Linked DNA regions of Homo sapiens: region 2 is linked to region 1. The links come from fine-mapping of genetic effects on gene expression. A gene starts in region 1. The other region holds a variant in brackets. All regions are shown on one strand. Distances are from middle to middle.

The links.
Region 2: its variant is fine-mapped to the expression of GRAP2 in whole blood (INTERVAL, PIP above 0.99).

Annotation. Positions count from the first base shown.
Region 1 is chr22:39,896,234-39,905,592 of GRCh38, reverse strand. It overlaps GRAP2 (GRB2 related adaptor protein 2), which reads right to left and starts at 4,509. Exons shown (of 8, transcript NM_004810.4): 1 at 4,263-4,509.
Region 2 is chr22:39,974,171-39,983,529 of GRCh38, reverse strand. No RefSeq gene overlaps it. Among named protein-coding and RNA genes, the nearest start is that of FAM83F, 16 kb to the left of the region's middle. The variant T/C (reference allele first, on the strand shown) is at 3,831.

The sequences.
Region 1 (9,359 bases):
TGTTTTAGGAACCTTAAATGTATAAATCGTTTACTCTTCAGAACAATCCCACGAGATAGGCACCATTAGTAATCCCATTTTATAGCTTAAGAAACTGAAGCACAAAAAGAATAACTCGTCCCAGTTCATTCGCTTAGTAAGTGAAAGACTGGGCTCACACCGAGGCTGTCTTGGCTCCACAGCAAGCACTCAATAAACATTACCTACTATTATTATTATTACCTGAACTTATGCACTCAATAAATATTTCCAGCCACTATTGCTGCTGATAATGATGAATTTGCATGTCGAGTCCATCTTCAAAGCGTATTAAAAATATATATGAACTCCAATGAAATAATCAATTTAGGCAAAGATTATTACCTAAAGTCACCGGGTGAGAGTTTGTTGGGAAATAGGATATTGCCACCATGCCAAAGTGTTTATGAGATACACTTTGAGATACCCCCTGAGAGTACTCGCTAATTGCAAAGGGTGAAAAAGTGCCTGTACAACAAGAGATCCTCTGAGCAAGATCACTACCTCAAGCCCTGATCAAACTTGGCATCATGCACAGTGGAACAACCTGGCATTCTGTACCTCCTGATAAGATGCAATATGGAGCACCCAGTGGCACCTTGCAAAAAACGTTCAATCAAAATCAAATCATGCTTTTAGTCCTAACTTGGAGCTTATGAGAAATAAAGTGGGTAGAGGAACAAATTAACCATGAGGCAACAACGAATTCAGAAAGTGGGACCTGGTACAAGAGAACTGGCGTAATCTTTAAAAACATCCAATGTTGAAGAAAGAAGCATGAGACCCAACTGCAAAATATGTTCTTATTTTTAAAAATTAGATTCTTTTTTTAAAAAATGGTATAGAAGACATTTGGGGGACAAATGGGGAAGGTTAAATCTGCACTAGCTATCAGATGATATTAAGGACTTACTGTTTATCCTCTTAGGCCTAATGATGGAATTGTGGTTAGATAGAGGAATGCCTTTATTCTTAGATGAGTACTGAATTATTTAGGAGTGAAGTATTATTTTATCTGCAACTTACAAGTAATTCAGAAAGAAATAGGTATAGATGGAGCAAATACGGCAAAGAGTTAGCAATTGTTGAACCTAGGTAGTGAGTACTAATATTTCAACTTTTCTTTATGTTTTATGTTCAGTTATTTTCTCACTATCTTTTCTTTTCTTTTCTTTTTTCCTCTTTTTGAGACAGGATCTTGCTCTGTCGACCAGGCTGGAGTGCAGTGGCACGATCTCAGCTCGCTGAAACATCTGCCTCCCGGGTTCAAGCAATTCTCGTGCCTCAGTCTCCCAAGTAGCTGGGATTACAGGCGCCTGCCATCATGCCCGGCTAATTTTTGTATTTTGGTAGAGACAGGGTTTCAACATGTTGGCCAGGCTTGTCTCCAACTCCTGACCTCAGATGATCTGCCTGCTTTGGCCGCCCAAGTGCTGGGATTACAGGTGTGAGCCACTGTGCCCGGCTGTTCTTCACTATCTCCTTAAGGTATGTCTTAACATTTTCTTTGGAGAGTATATAAGACTTTTATCATCATGCACTTCGTGATAGTTTCTTTTAATTCTCTAAAATTTTTGTTTATAAATACATATTTAAAAAGAAAACAATCTTTAAAAATTATTTACTGAATTCCTACTGACTCAAGTTTATTGAAACTTAATGTTAACACTGTTGAAGAGGACTTGGTGCCTAGTGCCAGGCCTGGCATATAGTAATTGATCGATAAATGTTTGTAAAATGCTTATTTGTTAAACAGGACCATGCTTTCTTAAGAATTTTTAAGAGAAAAGAAAGGGCAGGCCAGGTGTAGTGGTTCACACCTGTAATCCCAACACTTTGGGAGGCTGAGGCAGGCGAATCGCTTGAGTTCAGGAGTTCAAGACCAGCCTGGGAAACATGGCAAAACCCTGTCTCTACTAAAAATACAATATTAGCCAGGTGTGGTGGTGTGTACCTGTAGTCTCAGCTACTTGAGAGGCTGAGGTGGGAGGATCACTAAACCCAGGGTAGTTGAGGCTGCAGTGAGCTGTGATTGTGCCACTGTACTCCAGCCTGAGTGACAGAGTGAGACCCTGTCTCAAAAAAAAAAAAAAAAAAAAGACTCATGAGGCTGTGTTATTATCATTATTATTATTTATTTTTGGAGATCTGCCCACCTCGGCCTCCCAAAGTGCTAGGATTATAAGCATGAGCCACCGCGCCCAGCCAAGGCTGTGCTATTTCTTTACAGACCAAGGTATGCTGGGCAAATACCTCAAATGGACAAAATGGGGACCTAGCGACCCTATTGTTTGATTCAAACAACTTATAAAGATTCTTTAACAAGTTTTGAGTTTGTTTGATAGGGGCACAAAAATGAATCATCTGCCCCCAGGATTATCCAGCAGCAACTGTTACTTATTTAAGAAATCGTGATGGAATCACACTTACTGACACATTTTCGAACAATTGCAGACTTTTCTTGACCCAGGAAAAAAGGGCAAGTTCTACTCAAGCTTAGGCATGAACCCTGTCAGTCATCAACACCAGTGGGTGTTATTATCTGGGAATCAATAAATATGTTGGAACTAGGATCATTTTCAGCTCTTCTAGGAAGCAATAGTTCTAAAAGAGATGGCTTCAGGAAATAAGTGAGAGACATTTTGTATAAGAAGTGGGAAGAAAATGATCAAGAGTCAAAGAAACAACTAATCATGATATCGCCTTGCATTTTTATAGAGCCTTTTTCCTAAGGCACTTCATATCTATGTTAACTCATTTATTCTTACAACATCCCTACGAGGTAGACAGAACAATTGAAAGGGATTTTCACCAGGGCCTAAGATGTGGGAGATATTCAAAAGGATATTGTATTAGCAACAGAGATATTTCTTCATATTGAATAGATTGATCATCTCCTTCTCCTCTGCTTCAGTAAAGTCATTTTTAAAAAGATAAAATCTATTACAATTTGGGGAGAATAAGATTTCAGTTTACCACATGGGAGACACTCCAAGTTCAATCTAAAAAAGCAGTTTTATTCAATAATATAGGGCCACCTCTCTTTTACAAAAAAACAAAAAAGGGTATGAGTCAGATTTTTTTCGTATTTGAAAATTAAATATACTTAGGTGGTCCTCTATTTACACAGTGTTCCTTATTTAATAGCAGATGGTTTTGTAAAGAGAATCACTATAAAATTATTCTATAAAGTTTTACATAAAATACTGGATTGTTAAAGGAGAGTAACTTCTGCTAAATACTCTTTCCGAAACCAAAAATAAGAAACAAAAAGGAGCCACTAAAGAACTAAACCGTTTATGACAAACATTGCTGCATAGAACAAAAGATTCTGCGACCTGAAGTTTCCCATCCTCAGATAACATAACGAGAACACACGAAATTTTTCCCATTGGATGTTTAGATCTAAAACACTTCCCACTCCTAGTTTATCTAGGGATGTGTATGTTCAATAGTGTGCAAATTATGCTGCATACACTTTATTAAGAAGGCCTAATTCCAGGTAGATAAATACGGTAAATTTTTTTTGACAGTATACCTGTCAGGGCAATACAGTACATTTTAAATTAGTGAAACCTTTGGTTGGTATGTTCAATCCTCACGTTCAGGAAGAGTTGGGACAAAGAACACAAAGCAGCTATCTTCAGACTGGACGCCTAAACCAGAGACAGTCATAGGGATGGAGCCTAACGGCTAGTACGAAGAGAGACAATACCCTTCCAAAATACACTTCAACATAAAGTTTTCTTTTCGTAAAGGAATGAAAACTGGTGTCCTTTGTACAGGTAACAAAAATGCGAACAGAACTAGAAATTCAAGCAAAGAGAGAAATCCTGACCTCAGAGTGCTAGTGTTCATTCATCACTGCTCAGCCCTCTACCACCCCCTCCAATCCCTTCCAATTTGGATTAAATTCTGACCATGGTGAAGTGGAATTTTACCTCCATGATCCCAAGGTCGAAAATCTTTCCCTGAGATGCTTCTGAAGCCAGTTTGTGGAGATTTTTGTGTTATGGACTGGGTAAGGAACAAGTGTTCTCCCAGTTCATTTGATAGAAGTCAAATCCCATCACCACAAACATTGTCACAGCAAAAGGTTTAGAGACCTTAGCTGATGGGACTTAAAAGCAATATTTAGAGAACTAGTGAGATTCATTTTAATTAACTCATACAGAACATTCTGCAAATTATAAAACTGTTCAAAGTTTCTAGAGTATATGTACAGATGTTGTATAATGACATACCTTTTGGAAGAGAAGGGGTTGAGTTTATGTCTTGGCTTTGACACCGAGTTATTAGAATCCTTTCTGGCAAGAAGGGAGACAAATTCAAGCATCAGAGTTACTGCATTTCAGAGTATGGATCCACTTTGTGCTGTCTTCCATGTACCACTCTGAAAGAGGGTGCAAGTTTACAGATCCATTAACTGTGCCTCCTCCTCCCCACCTCTTACTCCCTCCTCCAAACTAACCCTAGTCAGCCCTGCAGTCTGTAGGCAAACCACACAGGAACTAGCACATATGGGGCTTCGGAGAGTTGGGCGTGAGCCTTAGATTATGTGGTTTTGTTTTCTTGCTGCCAGAGTTGAACTAAAATGCAGGAGGTTCACTGAAACACTTTTGCTTCTTTATGCTTGGTTTCAGTTTTAACAATATCCCCCCTGAACACTTGTGTTCACATAAGAAAATTTATAGTTCTTGATATGGTCCATCAGCAAGCTGATCTTAAGGAAAACTCTTATTCTCTTAGTATAATCATGCATCCAGAGGAACATTAGGGCTTCTTGGGGGAACTTATTTAAGAGCACCCTCGATCACTCACAATGTTAAAATCCCAGGAAAGATGCTTTGTTCATACACTCAGCCTCTAATATTACTCTTGACAAAAAAAGAAGAAACATTCTGAGCTGGGATGCATTCTCACCCCAGGTTTGCCACAGTCCAGCATGAGGTGGAACCAGTTCCTTCAATTTCTGGGACTTCAATTTCTGTTGAGTCTTAGACTGAAGGCTTTCTGGGATTTAAGACTTTCCATTGACCTTGAGTTTTGTTACCTTCAACTTCCTTAGTTCTTACCTTTAAATGTACCACTCACCCTTCCCCCTATATCAACTGCAACTTGTGAAGGCCTCTTCCTTTCTCTTTGCTCTTGCTAGAAAATGGATTGCCAACGTTGCATCTTTTACAGAAAATTAGAGACATTGCTACTTGCTAAGTGGCACCATTCAGAGTTTGGGGACTGGATCCAAGATGAGGAGGGAAATGTTGGCTCACTGGGATGTTCCTAGCATTAATCCCTGGAATACCAAGAGGAGAGTGTCAAGGAGAGATTCAATTTGGGGTTCTAAAATTTAAACTTTTTCTGCAATGTGAAACGGCATCCTTTTCCATCTCTTTGCTTCTTTATATCTAAACCTTGCTTAAAATTTACTTTCTTAAAACCTTTTCCTTGGTTATAATTGCCCAACATTTTTATTGAAATAGAAAAGAAGAATCAGCAAAGTGTCAAGGTGACAGAAAATGCTCAGTAAATATTTGTCGAATGAGTTAAAGGAAGTAATTTTCTATCCATAACTCCTTTTTTTTTTTGAGACGGAGTTTCACTCTTCTTGCCCAGGCTGGAGTGCAATGGCATGATCTTGGCTCACTGCAACCTCCGTCTCCCGAGTACAAGTGATTCTCTTGCTTCAGCCTCCCAAGTAGCTGGGATTACAGGTACCTGCCACCATGCCTGGCTAATTTTTTTTGTATTTTTAGTAGAGATGGGGTTTCACCATGTCGGCCAGGCTGGTCTTGAACTCCTGAACTCAGATGATCCGCCCGCCTCAACCTCCCAAAGTGCTGGGATTACAGGCATGAGCCACCGCACCCGGCCCTGTAGCTCCTTAATAACAGGCTTTCTTTTTATTAATGCAACTTTGTCAAATTTTCTTAAATCCTGGTTATATCTGAAAAGGATCTCTGCTATTTCCACATTATAAAGATAAAATTTAAAAATAACAACATCTTGCTACTTTAAAAATAATAACGTCTCAACCTTGACCTCAGAATTATTCAGCCTTCTAAGGACCTTCTTGGATCATTACACTGAACAGCTCTATTGCCAAGTTTTTAAATGCTGAAATCCTCTGGCTACAGTCCTTATTCTTTGATAGCTCCCAAGTCGATGGTTTTGAAATGGTTAAAGGAGTCCCTAAAATTCTATGGTTGGGGAGTGGGAGCGAAGGGAAAATGTTGAATGGTGTTACATGGAAAGTATCATGGTGTTTTCAGCTTGTACCCTAATGAGGAAGCTAATTTTGCACCAGGCACTACTCCCCAGGGAGCAGAATATAATCCTTCCCCTTACAAGCATGGGACAGATTGCAGAACAGAAAAATCTCAAAGGCAAGTTATTTTGGTAGTAAGTACTGATTGACAGACATGTTATGTAGAGCATAGTGGGAGGGAAGCAAGGCCACTTGAGTGGTTTATTTCATAACAGCTCTGTAACTGAACGAGTGCAAAGGCAGATCCTAAGAATAAAGACCCTAATGTGAGAATGCCAGCATTTCAGTACTCACTATCATGAGATACTCAGAAAAATAGCAGCAAGATGAGGAGGATACAGTAACATGTGAAATATGGACTTAGCCACAGTGGAGAAGTTTCTTTTTTAAACCATACTTTGTTTAAAATTTTTTTAATCAATTCCTTTTGAGGGGTCATTTGTTTATATCTGAACTTCTGTTTTGTTTTGTTTTTTGTTTTATTTTGTTTTTTGGAGACTGAGTCTCGCTCGGTTGCCCAGGCTAGAGTACAGTGACGCAATCTTGGCTCACTGCAACCTCCACCTCCTAAGTTCAAATGATTCTCCTGCCTCAGCCTCCCGAGTAGCTGGGATTGCAGGCACCTGCCACCACACCCAGCTAATTTGTATATTTTTAGGACAGCTGAGGTTTCGCCATGTTGGTCAGGCTGGTCTCGAACTCCTGACCTCAGGTGATCTGCCCACCTTGGCCCCCCAAAGTGCTGGGATTACAGGCATGAGCCACTGCGCCTGGCCAATATCTGAACTTCTTGCCATAATTATGCTCAATTTAACTTTATGGTAAAATATGTACTTCTTATTTAATAGTGTGCATTCAGACATTCTCGTTTCATTTATTCAATAAATAAAGTTTGAACACCTACTCTGTGTTAGTCCTGTTCTAGGTGCTGGAAAACTATCAGTGAACAAAACATAATCTCTGCCCTCCTGGATCTTACATTCTGGTAAAGGGAGAAACAGAAGGTACATCAGATGGTCCTACTGTTAGGGAGAAAAATAAAATGATGCAAGAGCCACAGGGAGTGTGGCTGAGATGGGGGTTGCGATTTTACGTTGGGAAATCAAAGGACATTTGAGCAAAGTCTAGAACAAAGTGAAGAAGCCAGTACTTCCTGGATGGACATCTGGGGAAATAGCTTTTGCAGGTATAGGGACTAGCAAGTGCAAAGACTTCAGGTGGAGACATGTTTAACACTGTGAGTGAGGTGGAGAGGAGTTGGGATGGAGATCAGAGAGAGAGCAGAACATGTAGGGCCTTGTTGCCATGGCGAGGCCTTTGGATTTTACTCTGAGTGAGATGGAAGCCAATGGAAGATTTTGAACTGGGGAGTAGTATGATCTGACTTGGGTTTTAAGTTTTAAAAGGGTAGCTCTGGCTGTTGTGCTGAAATTAGATAGCAAGGGAGCAAGAACAGAAGAAGAGAGACCAGTTAGGAGCCTACTGTTGGCCAGGCATGGTTGGCTCATGCCTGTAATCCCAGCACTTTGGGAGACTGAGGCGGATGGATCACCTGAGGTCGGGAGTTTGAGACCATCCTGATCAACATGGAGAAACCCAATTTCTACTAAAAATACAAAATTAGCCAGGCATGGTGGCGCATGCCTGTAATCCCAGCTACTAGGGAGGCTGAGGCAGAAGAATCGCTTGAACCCGGGAGGCGGAGGTTGCAGTGAGCCGAGATTGCGCCATTGCACTCCAGCCTGGGCAATAAGAGCAAAACTCCATCTCAAAAAAAAAAAAAAAAAAAAAGAGGCTACTTTCATAGTCCAGACCAGAGATGGTTGTGGCTTAAAACAGGATGATGTGAGTGGTGGGAAGTGGTTGGATTTTGAATATACAGGGTGATCATAAAGTCTAGAAACATAGATAATGTTATTGTATCTTGTATTAGAATGTAGCATCAATAAATCATTTATTATCTAGACTGGGTAGCCACCTTGTATTTCAAAGGTAAGCTCATGGATATCATGAGAGCTATAAGAGACAAACACAGGAGTTAAGGTGACTCCCAGGTTCATGGCCTGAGAACCTAGAAGCAAGGATGTGTCATTTACTGAGACAGGAGAGACCGTGGGAGAGAAGGTTTGGAAGGCAAGACCAGGAGTAGAGGTCAAGGTAGTTAGATACACGAGTTTGGAGGTCAGGAGAAGCTGAAGAGAAAACCTTGAGAGTTGTCAGAATCGAAGAGTATTTACCGCTTTGCAAGTGGATAACACTACCTGTGGAGTGAATATAGATAGAGAAGACAAGAGGTTAGAGAATGGGCTCCTTCAAAGTTGAGAGGTCATAGAATTGAGAACGGATGAGTCAAGGAGATGAGAAGGAGAAATGGTGTCCGGGAAGTCAGGTGAAGCAAACTGTGTTCACTTTTATAGAACCTCAAGTTCAAAAAATTAAAGGAGAAAACCAACCAAGCTACCATAGAGCAATATTTGTATTTAGTGGATGTTACGGTATTGCAACTAAATTGTGCCCCCAAATGGAGGAAAGCAGATAAGAAGGACCCCTTACATATTGTCACTTGAACAGGGTTAATTCCACTAAGCTGGTAACACTTGACACTTTTGCCAAGCCTAACCAACTCCCTCACTGTTTATTGGGACTTCAGTCTTTAATCTTACCCTGTCTCCTACTTCCCATCTGCCTCCTCAATCACCTTCTATATGCTGACTACTCTGAAGTCTATGAACCTAGCCCCAAACCCTCTTCTTTCAGTTATCTCTATTCAACTGTCCCCTGAACATCTCCCACCTGTTGCTCAGATTCAAAATGTCCGAAGCAGAATTCCCCAGCTTTCCTGCCAAACTGACCCCTCGGATCATGTTCATCTTGGTGAACAGCAACAGTCATTTACTTGGTCACCCCAAAAAGAAACTTAGTCCCTGTAGACTCCTCCTTCTCTCTCATTGCCACATATATTCAGAGCCCGATCCCATAACTGCTACACTTTAACATTACATGTAAAAGTATATGTGTGAGGAGAGTGAACAGAGTGGAGATTCACACTATGCCCATGACCTCTGCCTTAGTT
Region 2 (9,359 bases), 78 kb before region 1:
TGGCATGAACAAGGCAGGTGAACGGGGAGCTGGGTACTGCACTGGTCCCAGCATCTGGGCCTGGGCAGAGATCTTATTGCAGAAGCAAGGGAAGAAGGTGGGGCTGGATCTCAGAATGAAAGAAGGAACAAATAGCAGACCCAAGAGGCTTATGCAGTGGCCCATATTGGAGGAGTCAGGATGGGTCCCAGCAACCTAGAGAGGGCTGGGCCTGTGCCATGGCTCCATCTGGGGCAGAAGGACCAGCAGAGCCCAAGAACTGGGAGACCCTGTCTGAAAGGACATCATGCTTTAGCAAGCTGGGTGTTTTAGGGACACACATTGCATCCTAAGTTTTTTTTTTAGGAAGCCTCGGTTCAGAAGAGGACCTAGGGAGCCCCAGGACTTGTGAATATTGATGTCAGAAGTGAAATTTCTCCTAGCAGAAGGGAGAATCTCTATAACTTTTTTTTTTTTTTTGAGGTGCAATCTTGCTCTGTTGCCCAGGCTGGAGTGCAGTGGCACGATCTCGGCTCACTGCAATCTCCACCTCCCAGGTTCAAGCAATTCTCCTGTCTCAGCCTCCCAAGTAGTTGGGATTACAGGTGCCCCCCACCATGCCTGGCTAATTTTTGTATTTTTAGTAGAGACAGGGTTTCACCATCTTGGTCAGGCTGGTCTTGAACTCCTGACTTTAGGTGATCCGCCTGCCTTGACCTCCCAAAGTACTGGGATTACAGGTGTGAGCCACTGCGCCCGGCCAATTTTTTTTTTTTTTTTTTTTTTTTTTTTTTTTTTTTTTTTTTTTTTTTTAGACAGGGTCTTGCTCTGTCGCCCAGGCTGGAGTGCAGTGGCGCCATCTCGACTCCTTGCAGCCTCCACCTCCCAGGTTCAAGCAATTCTCCCACCTCAGCCTCCAGGGTAGCTGGGATTACAGGGGCCCACCACCATGCCCGGCTAATTTTTGCTTTGTTTTGTTTTGTTTTGGGATGAAGTTTCACTCTCGTTGACCAGGCTGGAGTGCAATGGTGTGATCTCAGCTCACTGCAACCTCCATCTCCTGGATTCAAGTGATTCTCCTGCCTCAGCCTTCCAAGTAGCTGGGATTACAGGCGCCCGCCACCATGCCCAGCTAATTTTCACATTTTTAGTAGAGACGGGTTTCATCATGTTGGCCAGGCTGGTCTCAAACTCCTGACCTCAGGTGATCCACCTACCTCAGCCTCCCAAAGTGCTGGGATTATAGGCATGAGCCACCATGCCCAGCCAATTTTTGCATTTTTAGTAGAGACGGGACTTCACCATGTTGGCCAAGCTGGTCTTGAACTCCTGACCTCAGGGGATCTACCCGCCTCGGCCTCCCAAAGTGCTGGGATTACAGGTGTGAGCCACTGCGCCTGGCCTATAGCTTTTATTTATCCTAATAGAGACACAAGCTTGCTAGTTTCTCTATTTTTTTAAAGAAAAAACTTTTTTGTTTTTGTTTTTTTAGACAGAGTCTCGGTCTGTCGCCCAGGCTGGAGTGCAGTGGTGCAATCTCGGTTCACTGCAACCTCTGCCTCCCAGGTTCAAGGGATTCTCCTGCCTCAGCCTCCTGAGTAGTTGGGATTACAGGCGTGTGCCACCACGCCCAGCTAATTTTTGTATTTTTAGTAGAGATGGGGTTTCACCGTGTTGGTCAGGCTGGTCTCAAATTCCTGACCTCATGATCTGCCTGCCTCAGCCTCCCAAAGTGCTGGGATTACAGGCATGAGCCACCACGCCTGGCCTTTTGTTTTGTTTTGTTTTGTTTTTGTTTTTTAAGATAGGGTCTTGCTCTGTCACTCAGGCTGAGTGTGGTGGCACAATCATAGCTCACTGCAGTCTCAAACTCCTGAGCTCGAGTGATCCTACTACCTCTGCGTCTGGAGTAGCTGGGACTACAGGCAGGTGCCTGTATGTACCACACCTAGCTAATTTAAAAAAAAAAAATTGAGGGCCGGGCGCTGTGGCTCATGCCTGTAATCTCAGGACTTTGGGAGGCTGAGGCAGGCAGATCACTTGAGGTCAGGAGTTCGAGACCAGCCTGGCCAACATGGTGAAACCTGTCTCTACTAAAAATACAAAAATTAGCTGGGTGTGGTGGCACATGCTTGTAATCCCAGCTACTAGGGAGGCTGAGGCATGAGAATCGCTTGAACCCGGGAGGCGGAGGTTGCAGCGAGTGGAGATCACGTCACTGTACTCCAGCCTCGGTGACAGAGTGAAACTCTGTCTCAAAAAAAAAAAAAATGTTTTTTGTAGAGACAGAGTCTTGCTATGTTGCCCAGGCTAAGACATAAACTTAATGCATTCCTTTTCTGCACCCATCTTGAGTCACTCCTTGCCGAAGAGGTGTCTGAGGATCAGTGCTCACTGAGGGTATGCCATCCACATGCATCAGTGGTTTAGAGCAAGAAGTGACCCAGCCTTTCCTTCATTTTACTAGGAGGAAACTGAGGCCCAGAGGGGTTGAGAGACTCCCCTTAGGTCCAGGGGCTCAGGAGAGAGTGGGGACAGAATCCCAGCTGCAGACCCCCCAGCCAGTGCTCCCTTCCTCTGTGCCCCCCCACCCATCTGGACTTTCCATGGTAACTAAGCCTCCTCCAGTGTGGGAAGCAGTTACCTAGCAACTTCCCATAACCAGGTTAGAGCCGAGGGAGTGAGATACCACATGCTGCCTGCCCTGGGGAATTTAGATGTGTAGAAATGGGATCGCCCACGTCATAGTGTGGCCACAAATGACCCTGCATAGAGCCATGCCTGGAAGCCCCTGTCGGGGAGAGTCTCACATCAGGATCAGTGAGTCTCAGGGATGACGGCACAGTCCTGGGCTGGCTGAGGCGTCCACCCCTGCAGTGGATGCAGGGCCCCACTGTGTACAGTGCTGGTTTCTCTGAACAGCATGGAACCTGTCCCCATTGACCTGCTGGCTCAGTGTGGATGGGGGATCCACAGAGGAAGGCTGATGGAAAGGCTGTGTCTGTGTCCTTGCAGGCGTCTCACTGTGGCGGGGGGAATGGCAGGGAAGCTGTGCTCCTTCATGCTGCCTCTTGTTCCCTAATTATGTCAAGAAATGTTTATGAAATGACATGATTGTAAAGTAAGTGACTCTTCCTGTAATGTTCCCTGTATATTGGGTTTTGACAACCATCCGCCACCCCCACACGCTCACCTGCTTCTTCCTGTGGGCAGAGCCCTGCCTAGGTTCCCAGGTTCTGCCTCCTGAAGGGTCCTACCAATTGGCCTAAGCCAGTTATGGTGGCCTCATTCTCTTGGAAATGGCTGGTGTAAGAACAGCATGGGATCCAGTCTTGCCAGTGGGATCTGTGTGAATGGCCGCTGAAGGACCTCCAGGAAGGAAAGGGTTTCTCATTGAGTAGAATTGGGAGAGAATGTGCCCCTTCTCCATTAGACATTGTCACGTCTGCATGTGATGTCTGGAGCTGTAAGCCACTGAGAAGAGACACCACTGATGCTCAGAGACATCACTGATGCATTGTTGGGCCATTGTGTTAAGCCAGCCAATGGCTGTCTTGTCTCTGGACTTCTTGTGATGGGAAATCATGAGCCTCTTGTTGCTCTAGAGCCTTTTGGTCAGGCCTCTGTTTTTTTCGCCTCCAGCTCACTCACTTTGCACTTGTCTGAGTGGGCCACTTAATAGAGATGCCTTGACAAGTCTTGGTATTAAAGGTAAAGCACCCAAAGAAAACAAATGTCCCATATCTTCGATTTACTGACTAAATCAAAGATGGGACTCCCTGATCCTTTATCTCCTCAGTTGGAATTGAAATCCGACTAGCAGCTGCATGCCCAGCTCTCGCAGGTCTGAA[T/C]AGACTTCTCCCTAAAGAGCCTGATGGCGTCCCTGGTATTCCCAGCATCTGGCACATTTCTTTCATTCATTCATTCATTCATTCATTCATTCACTCATTCACTCACTCACTCATGCGGTGGTGTGCTGGGGCTGGCTCCTATCTGCCCATGAAAAACAATTGTGTACATCTCTTCCCAACTCTGGATTCAGTGATGTCATGTTGGTAGCCTGAAATCTGCCATGGTGGGAGTTGTTCTTTTTTAAGTAGACTTTTTTTTTTCAGCAGTTTTAGGATCACAGCAAAATGGAACAGAAGACACAGGGAGTTCCCAAATACCCCCTGTCCCCACACACGCATAGCCTCCCTCACTGTCAACATCCTCCAGCAGAGTGATATATTTGTTACAATTGTTGAGCCTACATTGACACACCATAATCACCCGAAATGCGTAGTTTACATTAGGGTTCACTCTTCCTGTTGTGCATCCTATGGGTTTTGAAAAATGTGTCATGCCATGTGTCTATTGTTGTGGCATCACACAGAGGAGTTTCACTGCCCTAAAAATCCTCCGGGCTCTGCGTATTCATGCCTCCCACCCTCAACCCTTCCAACCACTGATCTTTTTACCGCCTCTCTAGTTTTTCCTTTTCCAGCATGCCATGTAGTTGAAACGGTACAGTGTGTAGCCTTTTCATATTGGCTTATTTCACATAGTAATATGCATTTAAGGGTTGGGTGCAGCATCGCATGCCTGTAATACCATCACTTTGGGAGGCTGAGGTGGGCAGATCACCTTAGGTCAGGAGTTCAAAACCAGTCTGGCCAACATGGTGAAACCCCGTCTCTACTAAAAAAAAAAAAAAAATTCAGCCAAGCGTGGTGACGGGCGCCTGTAATCCCAGCTACTTGGGAGGCAGAGGCAGGAGATTTGCTTGAACCAGGGAGGTGGAGGTTGCAGTGAGCTGAGATTACACCACTGCACTCCAGCCTGGGTGACAGAGTGAAACTCCATCTTAATAATAATAATAATAATAATAATAATAATAATAATATGCATTTAAGGGTTTTCATCTTTCATAGCTTGGTAGCTTATTTCTTTCTAAATACTATTCTATTGTCTGGAGGTACCACAGTTTATTTATTCATTCACCTATTGTAGGACATTTTGGTTTCTTCTAAGTTTTGGCAATTATGAATAAAGCCACTATAAATATCCATGTCCAGGTCTTTGTGTGGATGTTTTCAGCACCTTTCAGTAAATACCAAGGAGTGTGAATGCTGGATCCTATGACCAGCGTAAGTTTAGTTTTGCAAGAAACCGTCGAACTCTCTTCCAAAGTAGCTGTACCATTTTGCCTTCCCACCATCAATGAATGAGAGTTCCTGTTGTTTCACATCATCACCAGCATATGGTGTTGTCAGTATTATAGATATGGGGCATTCTTATAGGTGTGTGGTGATATTTCATTGTTTTAATTTGTATTTTCCTAATGACATATGATATTGAGCATCTTTTTATCTCCTCACTTGCCATCTATATCTTCTTCCATGAGCTGTCCATGTCTTTTGCCCATTTTTAAATTGGGTTGTTCATCTTCTAATTGTGGAGTTTTTTTGTTGTTGTTGTTGGTTTTTTTTGTTTCTTACTTTCTTTCTTTCTTTCTTTCTTTTTTTGAGATGGAGTCTTGCTCTGTTGCCCAGGCTAGAGCGAAGTGGCAGGAACTTGGCTCACTGCAACCTCCACCTCCCGGGTTCAAACAATTTTCCTGCATCAGCCTCCCAAGTAGCTGGGATTACAGGTGCCCGCCACCAAACCCGGCTAATTTTTGTATTTTTAGTAGAGACGGGATTTCACCATCTTGGCCAGGCTGGTCTCAAACTCCTGACCTCATGATCCACCTGCCTCGGCCTCCCAAAGTGCTGGGATTACAGGCGTGAGCCACTGTGCCCTGCCTATTGTTGAGTTTTAAGAGTTCTTTGTGTATCATAGTCCTTTATCAGATATGTCTTCTGTACATATTTTCTCCTGGTCTGTGACTTGTCTTCTCATTCTCTTGGCATATGGTGGGAGTGTTTACACCATAGAATTGGCAAATACCACAAGTTAGGGCTTCTTCTTAGAGAGAGCCAATTATTAAATCTTTACCAGCACGTCACTGCATCTAGGCATCAACCATTTATTGACTGCACTGCATATCTTTGACCTAAAAAAGATTTGGTCTAGCAGAGGAGGCAGATCAGTGAATCACTGACAATGGTGTTCTGAGTATTGGGATAGAGGGAGAACAAGGTTACTACAGGAACATAAGTGGGGGTGGGGGAACGGGGGCACTTACATCAACCATAATATTGGGATGGTTTCCCAGTGGAGACCTGGAGCCCTGAGCTAATGATTTCAAAGTAAGTAACAGTTGTCTGGACCCACGCTGCCCTATAAGGCAGCTCTTTGCCACATGTGGCAATTTCAGTCATTTATACCAGGCATATTTCAAGTATTCAATAGCCACATGTGGCTAGTGGCTAGTGGCTACCACATTGGATGGAGCAGATACAGAGCTTTTCCCTCATCACAGAAAGTCCTAATAGACAGCCCTTGTCTAGACAAAACAGTGGGAGAAAGCATTCCAGGCAAAAAGAACAGAATGTAGGAGACCAGAGGTCTTAGAAAACATGCCTCATTCTGGGAACCACAGATAGTTCTAAGGGACTGAAGTAAAGAGTGTTTGGGACTGGAGAGGTAGAAGATGTGGCTGAACGAACAAGGCAGCAGGCAGATCACAAAAGGCCTTTAGTGCGAAGCTAAGGAGGTTAAACTCCAGCCTGAAGACTATGGAGAACCCAAAGATTTGAGCAGGAGCTTGGTATCATCAGCCTGTCTGCGAATAAGATCTCCCTGACTGCGTTGGAGGCTGTATTACAGGGGGCCAGCCAGAAAGGCAGGGAGACGAGTGCTGAGACTATTGCAGTCATCAGGGAAAGAAGTGAGAGAGGTTTGAAGTAAGGCAGTGGCTGTGGAATGGGTGCAGAGAAGGGACAGAGTTGAGAGAATGTGAAGGACCCGATGGCTGATTGTGTCTGACCCTGAAGAGGTGCTTTGTAAATATTTGTTGACTTAATGAATGAATTACAGCAAAACTTAAAACAATAGAAGTGAGTGCACAGCTACTAGGCTTCTAGGTAGTATCTACTGCACAAATGGTGTGGTGCAGAGGACACCCTTGCCTTGGTATGGACAGGCTGAAGTGTTGACTTTAGACTGAGAAAACAGCAAATATTTTGACCATGCTAATCAGTCCCCAGTGTGGGCTGTTGTGTTTCAGGTTAGCTGTGAGCTAACGATGGCATGTAGGTACATTCCCCTTCTTTTGAGCTCAAGGAGAAAGAGGCAACAGGGAAGAGTGAGAAGAGAGAGACGGAGGGAAGGGTTGGTATCCCTTGTTCTGTCTGATGGAGGGAGGGCTCGGCTGAGAAGAGAGCCAGCTGTGCTCATGGAAGATGCTGAGGGAGCCAGGGTCCAAGCAGTGCCTCTCAGAATTGGGCACAGGCTGGCCATTCTCCCCTCTACCTCTTCCCCAATCTCCTTGTCATGTGGACTGCAGGGCAGATTTGGTGTCCTGAAGGATTGGGTCAATTCACCAGCAGATAAATGTGGTGCATAGTGGATCCGCAGCATCTGGGAAGGCATTGTCAGCAGAGGATGCGTGGGGCAACAGAACACTGGAACCAGAGTAGGAAGCGTGAGTATACTGGTGCCTAAACACGTGAGAGATAACAGCCTCCCTCTCTTGGCCTCTCAGAAGTTAACTGGAGGAGAATCCGAAGACAGTGGCTAAAGCTACTGGAACCTGGACATCATTGTAAATATGACCTTGTTTGCATCTACAGGTCTGTTAGGCCCAAGACAGTTGAGTTACAAAATGAGTAAATAGATGAGATGAAGCAGGTCCAATCATTCCTTCATTAGAAAAATATTTACTGAGCCTCTGTGTGCCTTGCATAGTGCTAGATGCTGGGTGTACAATGGTTTACAAAACAGAGGTGACCCCTGCTCCGTGGAGCTTACAGCTCCAAGTTCACTTGAACTTGGGAGGCAGAGGCTGCAGTGAGCTGTAATAGCCATACAGCTCAGTCTGGCACCATCATCTGTGTACGTGCTATTCAGGAAAAGCACAGGATTCATAAGACCATCTTAGGGGAAGGATTATTTTAGATTAGAGGGCAGGGGAGGACTGTTTGGAAGTGACATTTAAACCCAGACCTGGGCCAGGCATGGTGGCTCACACCTATATTCCCATCACTTTGGGAAGCCAGGGTGAGTGGATCACCTGAGGTCAGGAGTTCAAGACCACCCTGGCCAACATGGTGAAACCCTGTCTCTACCAAAAATGCAAAAATTAGCCAGGTGTGGTGACATGACCCTGTAATCCCAGCTACTCGGGAGGCTGAGGTGGGAGAATCACTTGAACTTGGGAGGCAGAGGCTGCAGTGAGCTGAGACTGTGCCACTGCACTCCAGCCTGGGCAACAGAGCCAGACCCCATCTCAAAACAAAAACAAAAACAAAAACAAAAACAAAAACAAAAAACAAAAAACAGAAAACAAAAAACCAACCCAGACCTGGAGATGAACAAGAGTTAGCAGGGTTAGCAGGGGATGTGCCTCCAGGTAGCAAGAATGGCAAGTGTGAAAGGTTTGGGGACAAATCCTTGGCCATTTGGAGGCTGAAAGGCCAGTGGGGCAGGAGCATAAAAGCAAGGGGCAGGGGAGGCAGAAGAGGAGGCTGAGGAGGGAGGCAGGGGCCGGACTTCACAGGGCCACATTAGGACTTTGGACTTAAGCCTAAATCCAGTGGGAAGGGGAGTGATGTGATCGGATTTATTTTTACAAAGATCGCTTTGGCATCTGTGTGGAGGACCAGATTACGGGAGAGAATGCAGGGAGAAAGGTATGAAAGCTGACAGTTGCCAAAGGAAGAGATGATGGTGGCATGGCCAAGGTGATGGAGTAAAGTGGAGGAACTGAGGAGGCATTTTTTAAAAAGCATTGAGACAATCAAGGTTTTTCTCACACACTTGCCTTGGTATAGAGGGGCTAAAATGTTGGCTTAGACAAGGCAAACAGTAAATATTTTGGCCATGCTAATCTGTCCCGAGTGTGGGCTGTTGTGTTTTAGGTTAGCTGGGAGCACAGTCCCCTGCCTCAACCAGGGCCACATCTGACCAGAGTCAATTTTATGACTGAAGATTTCCTGACAAAGCTTTTACAACTTCTGCAATCTCTGCTGATGTTTAAAATAATTACTATTAGGAAATAGTAATTATTATAGGAAATTCCTGTTTGCATTTCATCTGAATTCCTCTCACATTACATTTTTTTAATTCTAGAGATAAGGATGCTAAAATAATAAGTCACCTGGGTAGCCAAATATGAATGACGTCATAATGACCGTTCTGAATTGCATCTGTCCCAAAGCCAAAGTGACCTATTCGTTAGCAGCGAAGAAAAAATGGCCGAATATCCTCAGAAGAAGAGCCCAATTAGAGTTGTG